3 linked regions of the Homo sapiens genome follow. The protein of the gene in region 3 interacts with the protein of the main gene of each other region in a pairwise test. Each region holds a gene or a part of one and is shown on either strand. Other genes may lie near its edges.

Region 1 (3,749 bases), on a different chromosome or scaffold from region 3:
ACTGTATTCCTTTTCCAGGGACCTGAAAACCCTTTACTAACACTGTTCTCATTCATCTTCAGAAGACCCATAAAGGTAGCCATGGTTACTGTTACTAAATGTACAGATATAAAATGCAGGCACACAGAATCAGTGACCTGGCTATGTCATAATATCAGTAATAGAACCAGTACTAAAATCCCTATTATCTTCTGCACTTTCGCCAAGTGCCCCTTCTAAATCTGATCATGCATGTAAAATTACTTAAAATACTCAAACCAGCCATGGGGCTCCTGGTTTTTGCCTGACGGAATTACTTGGTCAAAGGGTTACCCAGTACCAGGGTCAATTTGTATAATTTCCAGTACTGTGGCACCTAGATTTATCAAATTTATAAAATTTTCAAAGAGGAAGCTACAGAAGAAAATGACCACAGACCCTGTAAACTGTGGTCTAACCTAGTCTATCCACACAAACACACACACACAAACACACACACACAAAACTATCAGCTTCTGTATAAGCAACGGTCTGCCAACTCAACCCTGGAGCCAACCCAGACCTAATCTGCACTACCTGCCACGTATCCTGTTGAACTCTAATTAAAACCAAGACATCCTCATCTTCCCTTCTTTAAACCAAACCTATACACTTGAATCGAGCTACACCTACCTCATGACAATCCCACCTTAATCTACTCAAACCGATTCAAAATCCCCAATATATATCAACCTGCCTCGCCTCTCTCACCAATATTCACCAAACTCTTAACCACCCAAATTGCCACTAGATGCCACTAAATTAGAGACCTCTCTCTCATCAAGTCCCTTCAAATAAAGGTCTCTCTTCATCTCACCTCCTCATCTAATCGAGCAGACATTTTACCCTACCCCAGTCCTATTCGTGCAGATACCGATACCAACCCCATCCACCCCTTCGCGCAACTATACCCCTAACTCCGACCCAGCCCAACTCGCCCCCCTCAGGCCAGCAACGCCGTAGGTTGTAGTGGGATTTAACTCCTTCTGCAGCGCATGCGCCGAAACCACAGATACAAACAAGGAGGGGGTGGGGGAAGGAGGAAGGAGCTTAAGACACTCCTGGAGAGTAGTGCACACCCTCCCATTTGGGCTCGCGCTGCTGCCGTTAAGGCGGGAACCGGCGCGATCTCCATTCCAGCGCGAACCTCATCAACCACCGTGCGCGCGGATCCAGAGGCTCGCGCTGGCGGCCTGAGCGAGCTCGCGCCGAGCCCGGATACTGCGCCTGCGCCGCGGCAGAGGCTCGTCTCTACCGGGTCCGCTCTCCTCCGACACCCCAGCAACGCCGACTCCTCACCCCTTTGAGCCGCTTGACCAGGGCACTCTTCTGCCCGCTCTTGGCTAGGCCTCGCTGCTCCAGTGCGGCCTTCAGGTCGGTCACCCGCAGCGCCTGAAGAGGCTTCCCGTCCAGAGTCACCTCCTCCAGCTCCGCCATCTTGCGTGAGGTACTCGGGTCCGTCCCGACGGCTTCGGGCATCTTCGGTAATTTCCGCCAACGCCCTTCGAACGTACCGAGATGACCCCGCCCACTGCCATACTCTACCCCTCGATTACCACTCAGAACTCCCCGGGTTCCTCCGGATGTCCTCGGATGTTTCCGTCTCCACATCGTTACCAATCAATTCTTTCCATCCGCCCTGCAGCGCCCCTTTTCTCGCCCTGCTTTCAGGCTCGGTTTTCTTCGTCTTGCCGAAGCTTTGAATCGAATATATTCGGAAACCCTCGACCCTGGTATAACCATAATCGGAGATGTTCGTTTATTTCCGGACCTAGAGATGAGGCGCTGGGGCGCTTGGGTGTTTGGGGCGGGTCCGAGGCCGGAAGTGCGTGGGCTGCCGGGCTGGCCCAGCTTAGGGTTTTCAGGAAATTTGGAAGCTGCCGCAGTAGTTGGAGTCTAAGGACTCGTGACAATCTTCGGGTGCCCTTCGAGAGAAAAGGGGAGGTAAGCGGGGTAGAAGTACCTCTATGGGCCGGGTCAGACTCGGTGTTTGCGGATTACCTTAATAGGGCAAGCCCCCCACTCCTTAACGCAAACAGCTTCTGCCCTCTGTCCTCTGAATCATAGCCACTCCCATCTTAGGCTTTTTTTGGGGAGGGGCGGGGGGCTGGTGCGGAATCGGAATAACAAGCTCCGTGGGGGTGCGCAAGAAGCATCGCCGTGTCTTCGGACCCAGACTATGAACTGATCTATGACGCTGAACTTGAGTTTGAGTTTGCCTTGGAAGCCATGTGGCAAGATTCTGGGAAAGTTCTTCCTTGCTCCGCAGAAGAGAGTAAGTTCCCTTGGAGGAACTGCTTCCTGTAGGGCAAGAACTGGAAAATGCAAGCGCCCTGAACTTTTTTGGTACTTGAACTAATATTAATTGTTTAGGGGCTTCTTTCTTTGTCACTACCAATCCTCCAACTTGATGCAGAAGAAACACAAACAGTAAAATAGGTCACAGACAAATAGTTTAGAGATTTAAGAGATACGTTAGAGATTTAAGAGACTGAAAACTATTAAAGTCAAATTGGCTGATCTTTCCGTTGCATTCATGATGCAAAATCAGTGGCAAGGTGCCGGGCGCGGTGGCTTACGCCTATAATCCCAGCACTTTGGGAGGCCGAGGCGGGCGGATCACTTGAGGTCAGGAGTTGGAGACCAGTCTGGCCAATATGGTGAAACCCCGTCTCTACTAAAAATACAAACAAATTAGCCGGGCGTGGTGGCGTACGCCTATAGTCCCAGCTACTCGGGAGGCTGAGGCAGGAGAATCGCTTGAACCCAGGAAGCAGTGGTTGAGATCACGCCATTGCACTACAGCCTGGGTGACAGAGCAAGACTCCGTCTCAAAAAAAAAAAAAAAAAAAAAAAAAATTGCAAGGCACCAATAGATACCATACTAAAAAAAAAAAAAAATTTTTTTTTTGTCACTCCACTCTGGGTCCCTCCACTCTGACGCAGGCTGGAGTGCAGTGGCGCGATCAGGGCTCACTGCAGCCTCAACCTCCCGGGCTCAGGTGATGCTCCTACCTCAGTCTCCTACGTAGCTAGGACTACAGGTAGGCACCTCTACGCTCAACTAATTTTTTTATTTTTTGTAGGGATGAGGTTTTGCCATGTTGCCCAGGCTGGTCTCGAACACCTGGGCTCAAGCGATCCTCTTGCCTCGGCCTCTCAAAGTGCTGAGATTACTTTGGAAGTGCAAGAACCACCGCGTCTGGCCCATACTAAATATTAAGGACAATTGTTTAAAGACATGGATTGTCATAAAATAGTATAACACTTGTTAGATCTCTAAGCCAACAAACCAACTGGACTCTTTTTTAAGAACGTCTCAAACACCCGGGCTTCTGGTTCTTTCATGCGTTACCTTATTTTGAGCAAGGTCCTTACTCTGCTTTTTAACTTTTCCTGGTGCTTTACAGGAAATGTAAGGAGGTAACGGATGTTATGGAGTTGTTGGCATATTTCAGAGGCTTATATGCACATTGAAGGCTCTTTCATCATAAATAATGTTTTTTCTTTCTTCCCCCACTGTTGATAGCTGCAAAACAATTAGCATCAGCCTTGACCAGCTGCACGTACTAGATTTTAAAATGTGTGCATTTTCATTTTGGAGAAGATGTAATGGACCAACATTAATCATTGTTTTTTTCTTTACCCAACCTGGCACATAGAAGTAAGAGGAAGAGAATGAACAAGAAATATATTGGTTATTTTTAGGTTCTTTATAAGAAAGATGGAGG
Region 2 (3,749 bases), on a different chromosome or scaffold from region 3:
GTCTCGATCTCCTGACCTCGTGATCCGCCCGTCTCGGCCTCCCAAAGTGCCGGGATTCCAGGCGTGAGCCACCACGTCCGGCCTTATTTTTATTTTTTGCAGTGATGTCATCTCCATATGTTGCCCAGGCTGGTCTCAAACTCCTGAGTTCAAGCGATACTCCCACCTCAGCCTCCCAAAGTGCTGGGATTACAGATGTGAACAATTGCCCAGTGATCACAAGGGTTTTCTTCAGGGACAAAAAGATACTTTTCCTTCTCCAACGTTACTCAAGAGTAGGAGGAATTCAGGTCCCTCCCTCTCATTCCAACCTCTAGAAGTTCCCTGTAACTTCTTTTTTTTTTTTTTGAGATGGAGTCGTACTCTGTCTCACAGGCTGGAGTGCAGTGGCGCGATCTCGGCTCACTGCAAGCTCCGCCTCCCGGGTTCACGCCATTCTCCTGCCTCAGCCTCCCGAGTAGCTGGGACTATAGGCACCCGCCACCACGCCCGGCTAATTTTTTGTGTGTTTTTAGTAGAGACAGGGTTTCACCATGTCAGCCAGGATGGTCTCGATCTCCTGACCTCGTGATCCACCCGCCTTGGCCTCCCAAAGTGCTGGGATTACAGGCGTGAGCCACCGCGCCTGGCCGTTCCCTGTAACCTCTTTGTCTGAGGTCAGCTAGCCATTGCTAGGCATCCTGATCCTGAGAATTCGTTAAATGTTTCTGGAACTTGGCGGGCCATCTAGGTCTCAGATATAAGAGAAGTGGCCTGAGGTTCTCCAGGATCTATCTGCATCCTCTATTCATGTAGGGCTGACTTGGAAGTGGGACCTGGCATGCGGTGGTTGGGATATTGCCGCACAAGGATGAGGCAGGATACAAGATGCCTCAGTTCTCAATTAGCTCAAAATTATGTCCCTTCGTGTATAGGAGCCTATCTGCCTATCACTATTTTTTTTTGAGACAGAGCCTCGCTCTGTTGCCCAGGCTGGAGTGCAGTGGTGCAATCTCAGCTCACTGCAACCTCCGCCTCCTGGGTTCAAGCAATTCTCCTGCCTCAGCCACCCGAGTAGCTGAGATTACAGGTGCCCACCACCACACCCAGCTAATTTTTGTATTCTTAGTAGAGATGGGGTTTCACCATATTGGCCAGGCTAGTCTTGAACTCCTGACCTCAAGTGACCCACTCGCCTTGGCTGCCCAAAGTGCTAGGATTACAGGTGTGAGCCACCGCACCTGGCCGAGCCCATCTCTTCTCTCTGAGCCATGTCTTGTTTTATTCCGTTGCCTTTGGAGTTGGTGGTTTGGGAGGGGAATAATTACTTAAGAGAGACACAGAATAGGCAGGGTGCGGTGGCTCATGCCTGTAATCCCAGCACTTTGGGAGGGCGAGGTGGGCGGATCACGAGGTTAGGAGTTGGAGACCAGCTTGGCCAATATAGTGAAACTCTGTTTCTATTAAAAATACAAAAATTAGCTGAGCATGGTGGCAGGTGCCTGTAATCCCAGCTACTTGGGAGGCTGAGGCAGGAGAATCGCTTGAACCAGGGAGGCGGACGTTGCAGTGAGCCAAGATTGTGCCACTGCACTGCAGCCTGGTGACAGAGTGAGACCCTGTCTCAAAAAACAAGGGAGACCAGAATTTTGTTTTTTTTATTATTATTATACTTTAAGTTCTAGGGTACATGTGTACAACTTGCAGTTTTGTTACATATGTATACATAACGCCATGTTGATGTGCTGCACCCATTAACTCGTCATTTACATTAGGTGTATCTCCTAATGCTATCCCTCCCCGCTACCCCCGCCCCAGGACAGGCCCCGGTGTGTGATGTTTCCACCCTGGAGACACAGAATTTTCAAATTTCAGAACAAGTCTGGGCGCAGTGGCTCACGCCTGTAATCCCAGCACTTTGGGAGGCTGAGGTGGGTGGATTACTTGAGGTCAGGAGTTCAAAACCAGCCTTACCAACATGGAAAAACCCTGTCTCTACTAAAAATATGAAAATTAGCTGAGCGTGGTGGTGCATGCCTGTAATCCCAGCTACTCAGGAGGCTGAGGCAGGAGACTCGCTTGAACCTGGGAGGCGGAGCTTGCAGTGAGCTGAGACTGTGCCATTGCGCTCCAGCCTGGGCAACAACAGCGAAACTCCATCTTGAAAAAAAAAAATTCATAACTAGAAGCCACCTTATATCAAAAATTCTAGGATTCAGCACCAGCTCTGAAGCTGGAGCATTGCTTGAGGCCAGGAGTTCAAAACTAGCCTTGTCAACATAGCAATACCCATTTCTACAAAAGAAAAATAAAAAAATAGCCAGTGTGGTTGTGGTGTTGTATACCTGTAGTTCCAGCTGCTCAAGAGGCTGCAGGAGGTCAAGGAACCGTGAGCTATGATCATGCCACTGCACTGTAGCCTGGGGACACTCTAGCAAGACCCTGTCTCCAAAAAAAAGGCTAGGTTTCCCTTAACAAAACACTATTATCTTTTTTTCTTTTTTTTTTTTTTTCACCCAGGCTGGAGTGAAGTGTCACTCTTGCCCAGGCTCAAGTGCAGTGTCGCAGTCTCGGCTCACTGCAACCCCCGCCCTCCGGGTTCAAGCAATTCTCCTGTGTCAACCTTCCGAGTGGCTGGGATTATACCCGCCTGCCGGTATAATCCGGCTAATTTTAATATTTCTAGTAGAGATGGGGTTTTGCCATGTTGGCCAGGCTGGTCTCAAACTCCTGACCTCAGGCGATCCGCCCACCTCAGCTTCCCAAAGTGCTGGGATTATAAGCTTGAGCCACCATGCCTGGCCTTTTTTTCTTTATTTTATTTCTTTATTTTTTTATTTTTTGAGACAGAGTTTCGCTCTTATTGCCCAGGCTGGAGTGCAATGGCGTGATCTCGGCTCACTGCAACCTCTGCCTCCTGGGTTCTAGCGATTCTCTTGCCTCAGCCTCCCTAGTAGCTGGGATTACAGGCATGTGCCACCACGCCTGGCTAATTTTGTATTTTTAGTAGAGATGGGGTTTCTCCATGTTGGTCAGGCTGGTCTCGAACTCCCGACCTCACTCAGGTGATCCACCCACCTTGGCCTCCCAAAGTGCTGGGATTACAGGCATGAGCCACCGCTCCCGGCCCTTTTTTTCTTTCTTTTTAAAGTTTTTCTTAGGGTACATCAGCAGCCTTTTTATTTTATTTTATTTTATTTTAATGAGATAAGGTCTCACTCTTTTACCAACAGTGAGACCCTGTCTTTAAAATAAATTAAATAAATAGAAACCAGCCAGGTATGGTGGTGGGTGCCTGTAGTCCCAGCTACTTGGGAGGTGAGGCAAGAGGATCACTTCAGCCCAGAAGTTCAAGTCTGCAGTGAGCTGTGATTGTGGCACTGCTAAAGTGCAGTTGGTGCCATCTCAGGTCACTGCAGCCTTGACCTCCTGGGCTCAAGCAGTCCTCCCACCTCAGCCTCCTGAGTAGCTGGGACTACAGGTGCGCACCATCACGCTTGGCTAATTATTATTATTATTTCTGAGACGGAGTCTCACTCTGTCTCCCAGGCTGGAGTGCAGTGGCACGATCTCGGCTCACAGCATCCTCCACCTTCTGGGTTCAAGAGATTCTCCTGCCTTAGCCTCCCAAGTAGTTGGGACTACTGGCTCCTGCCACCATGCTTGGCTAATTTTTGTATTTTTAGTAGAGACAGGGTTTCATCATATTGGCCAGGCTGGTCTCGAACTCCTGACTTTGTGATCTGCCCACTCAGCCTTCCAAAGTGCTG
Region 3 (3,749 bases):
AGATAGTATATAATTAGAGAGACTTCACTCTCTCTGGAAGGTCAGAGAAGGCTTTCCTAAAGAAATGATAATGGAGCTGAGGTCTGGAAGAAGCATAGGAGTTTCCTGAAGAGGGTAGGAGGGGGCACTGCACACAGAGGGAACAGGACAGTCAAAGGCAGGCCATTTGGCAACAGGTGACTGGAAGGAACTGGAAGAAGGCCCATGAGGCTGAAGTACAGAGTGAATATGCAGGGTCTAGGCAGACCATGCAAGAATGTGGGTTTCTCCTAAGAGCAATAGGAAGCCTTTTGAGGTGCTCTTAGCAGGGAAGTGAGATGATCACACTTATCGTTTGAGAAGATTACTCTGGCAGCACAGTGAACAACGTATTGGAATGGAACCAAGGAGCATTCAGGAGGCCAGACAGAAGGTATCAGGTATTTGCCTGTAAAATGGGGGTGATGAGAATACTATCTTACAAGCTGTTGCCAGGATCCAATGAGATACTGCATTTTAAGTGTCTAGTCTAGTACCTGGCACATAGTAAAGGCTCAGTAAGCGTCGATATTGTTACTTTTATCATTGGTTCTTTGCAGAGTGCACATATTTCTTATCCAGGTCTGCTCCTGCGTGATGGGGTGGAGGGAGTAGTTGTGGTTTCCAGAGTGAAAACGTGATTTGTGTCAAATCACAATGTCGAGACCAGAATCCAGGATGCCTGAAGGCCCGATTAGAATGGCTTAAAAGTATGGATTATTCAGGAAGAAAAACGGGTTCCAATCGCTCCTACTAAGGACGCTGGAGGGATGGTGAACGATCCTTTAGATGGTAAGCCCTAGCACTTATTGAGAAAAACAGGTGCTTCTTTGGTCGGAGAGCAGGTGTAGGGCTCGCAGCCGCGTGCGCTCCCGCGGAGGCGGGGGACCCTCGCCACTCCCCCGCCCCACGCCCACCCGCGGGCTTCCGACTGCACCTGCTCCCCCGGCTCGGAAACGCGGGCCGGGTGCCGGGCTGCAGGCAGAGGGTGCCCGGGGGAGGAGGTCCCGAAAGCCTCCTCCACACGCCTGCACCGGCTGCCCCCTCCCCAGTCACGTGGCCCGGTGGGTGGGGACCGACCTGAAGTTGGAGAAATCCGGAGCGCTCCCAACCTCGGAGGGAGTCGCCAGTCCTCCGGGCCCGGGCGGTGGACCCTGGAGCCCCGGCTGGCGGCGTGGAGGTGCGTTTCTGAGAAGCCGAGCAGCGGCGCGGGCGGCGGGACTCGAGGCATGGCCCGGCTGTCGGTGATCCCCGGGTCGGCCACGGCGTGGACAGGTGAGCAGGTACCCGCGGCCAGCGGCAGAGATGGCCGGGGCTGCCAGGGCATCGGGCCCCAGAGCCCACGCCAGTCCAGGGGATGCGGGGCCCCCACGCAGGAGGGGGCGGTTGGGTGAAAAGGCCGCGGTGGATTCTCGGACTGCCGGGTCAGTCCCCACCAGCGCCGCCGCCTCCTCGCCGGCTTTGCCACCGGGTGAGCAGGGGACGCGGGACGCGGGACGCGGGACGCGAGGGAGCCGCGCGGGGCGTGGACTCTGTGCCGGCCCCGCCCCCCGCGCGCGCACTGGCTGCTCCCCGCGACGTCACGCTCGGCTATAAAAGGCGCGGCTCGGGGCCCTTGCGGCGCTGGAGGAGCTCGAGGCTGAGGCTGCCGGGGGGCTGTGGGCTACCGGGCCGCCGGCGCCTCAGCGATGTTTTACTCAGGGCTCCTCACTGAGGGCGGCCGCAAGGAGACCGACATGCGGGAGGCGGCGTCACTGCGACAGCAGCGCCGGATGAAGCAGGCGGTGCAGTTCATCCACAAGGACTCCGCCGACCTGCTGCCCCTGGACGGCCTCAAGAAGCTGGGCTCGTCCAAGGACATGGTGAGCCCCCGCCGCCGTTCTCGCCCCGGCCCCGGCGGCTTCGCGCCCGCCGTTTTCCGAGGCCCGGCCGTTGCGGCTTTCACTGAGTCACGGCCCGGCCCGCCGCTGCCCTTGGCTCGCGGTCGCTGCGTCGCGGATTCCTCCCCTTCCAGTACCCCTGCTGCGGTTTCGGTGGGGATTCCGTCGTAGCTTTTCTAGCTTGCGCTCCCCTCGGCTGTGCCTCCTCCCTGGATGTCTCTTCTCCAGTAGAAAGAAGAGGTCCTGCCCTGCCCTCTTGCCCTCGGGTCTTCTTTCTTTTTCCTTATTCTTAATACCGAATTTTGTTCACGGGGCTTGTGCCTCCTATGCTGTGTGGCTGTTCCTATGACCCAGACAGAGGTGATTCCTAATGGCTTTCCGTGAGGGGGAAAGAAGTGGAAAGAGGGTTTTTTGACAGTTGCCAGATCCAGAGGACTTCTGTTGAATCCATTGTCCCCCTATGCAAAACCCACTTCTCTAGTTTTGGTCCTAACTTTGACCTTCCATCCTGAGTGGGGAGAGAGAAAAGGGGCCAAATGTGAAGGTTTCCTGAACCCCCAACATCTCTTCATCATTCTCCTCTTCCAGCCCCGCCCCCAAGGAGTGGGTAGAGGGAGGAAGCCAGGCTGCTGCATCTCACCGACCAGCTAATGTGTGCATCTGGAGCTGGGGTGGGTGCAGTCTTTTTTTCTAGCACAGTTGTTCCTGGCATTAAGTAGAAGCACCTCAGGACAGGGGGCCTGGGGTCAAAGATGGTACTGTCCTCTTTCTATAGAATGGGATGGATGGCTAAGGGTTACCAATATAAAGAACTGTATTTGTCATCCCTCAGCCACTGTAGTGGTCCTGGGCCAAGTTTATGTTTAACTTTGTAGTTTTATCTGGAGTTTTCTTGTAGTTTGATTGTTTTCTTGAATTTCACAATCGCTTTATTCATTTGGGTGGTAATATGTGAAACACTAATTAAATGTCTTTTAACAAATGAAATAGGTGCTCTGCATAATTTTTCTAGTATTTTTTATTTTAAGCTTTTGAAATATTTAATTTTGGATGTGGTTGTCGGCCCTAGTTCACTGAAATTGCCATTTCTGGCCCCAGGAGGGCAGAGCTTCTGCATCCATTTCCTTTTTTTTTTTTTTTTTTTTTTAATTTAACAGCTCTAATGATACACAGGTACATTATATTATACACAGTATAATATAATATACAAAAATTTTTCTCCTCCCTGCCATTAGTTACTTCTGTGCAGAGTTTGTCTACTTCAGTTATCTTGCTCTGTTTTTTTTACAAGTTGTGTTTTTTTGTTTTGTTTTGCTTTTTGCACAACCCACAGGATAGTTTATCTGATTTATGCTAACCCAGAGTGATAAGTGATTGAAATGTGCTCCTGCAAAAGAGATAACTCTCTTTTCCCTTCTTTCACTTTAAAGCAATCTCGATTCATTTAACAAATCAGGTTCGAGAAGTATTCTTTCCTTCAGGCCAAATAATCCTATCCTAGTTCCTAGAATGCTCAGCAATCAATAAAGAAGGAAGTATTATATTAAGAGAAGAATTAAAATACAGAGTTTTTAAATGCTGGATTTGGTTGTCCCTCGTTGTCGAGGAGTTTCCTAGCCCTGAGAGCTACCTGAACTTCCTTCTGCCTAGGATTTCTTATACTACTTCATGCTGTGTAAGAATTCCATCCGCTTTTCTGACTCTAGTCTGTCTCAGTTGAGTCACAAAGGGCTGATAGCATACAGCACAGGCAGCAGGCTGCAAAGAGGAAGGAGCCTCAAGAAGCAGGATATTGCCTTGAGTATGACACATACACATGACAGTTGACTGTAAGGCTCTGAATCATGGTTC

The links.
Region 1: the proteins of NRIP3 (region 3) and C14orf119 interact in binary tests that used the Homo sapiens proteins (3 or more experiments, as listed by UniProt).
Region 2: the proteins of NRIP3 (region 3) and NUTF2 interact in binary tests that used the Homo sapiens proteins (3 or more experiments, as listed by UniProt).

Annotation. Positions count from the first base shown.
Region 1 is NC_000014.9:23,093,658-23,097,406, forward strand, and holds the start of C14orf119 (uncharacterized protein C14orf119), read left to right. Parts: upstream 1-1,847; 5' UTR 1,848-1,962; intron 1,963-1,975; exon of another isoform or gene 1,976-2,293; intron 2,294-3,749. Other genes in the region: ACIN1 (apoptotic chromatin condensation inducer in the nucleus), read right to left, coding at 1,318-1,629.
Region 2 is NC_000016.10:67,849,875-67,853,623, forward strand, and holds part of NUTF2 (nuclear transport factor 2), read left to right. Parts: intron 1-3,749. UniProt on the Homo sapiens protein: Mediates the import of GDP-bound RAN from the cytoplasm into the nucleus which is essential for the function of RAN in cargo receptor-mediated nucleocytoplasmic transport.
Region 3 is NC_000011.10:9,001,893-9,005,641, reverse strand, and holds the start of NRIP3 (nuclear receptor-interacting protein 3), read left to right. Parts: upstream 1-1,640; 5' UTR 1,641-1,706; coding exon 1,707-1,880; intron 1,881-3,046; exon of another isoform or gene 3,047-3,727; intron 3,728-3,749.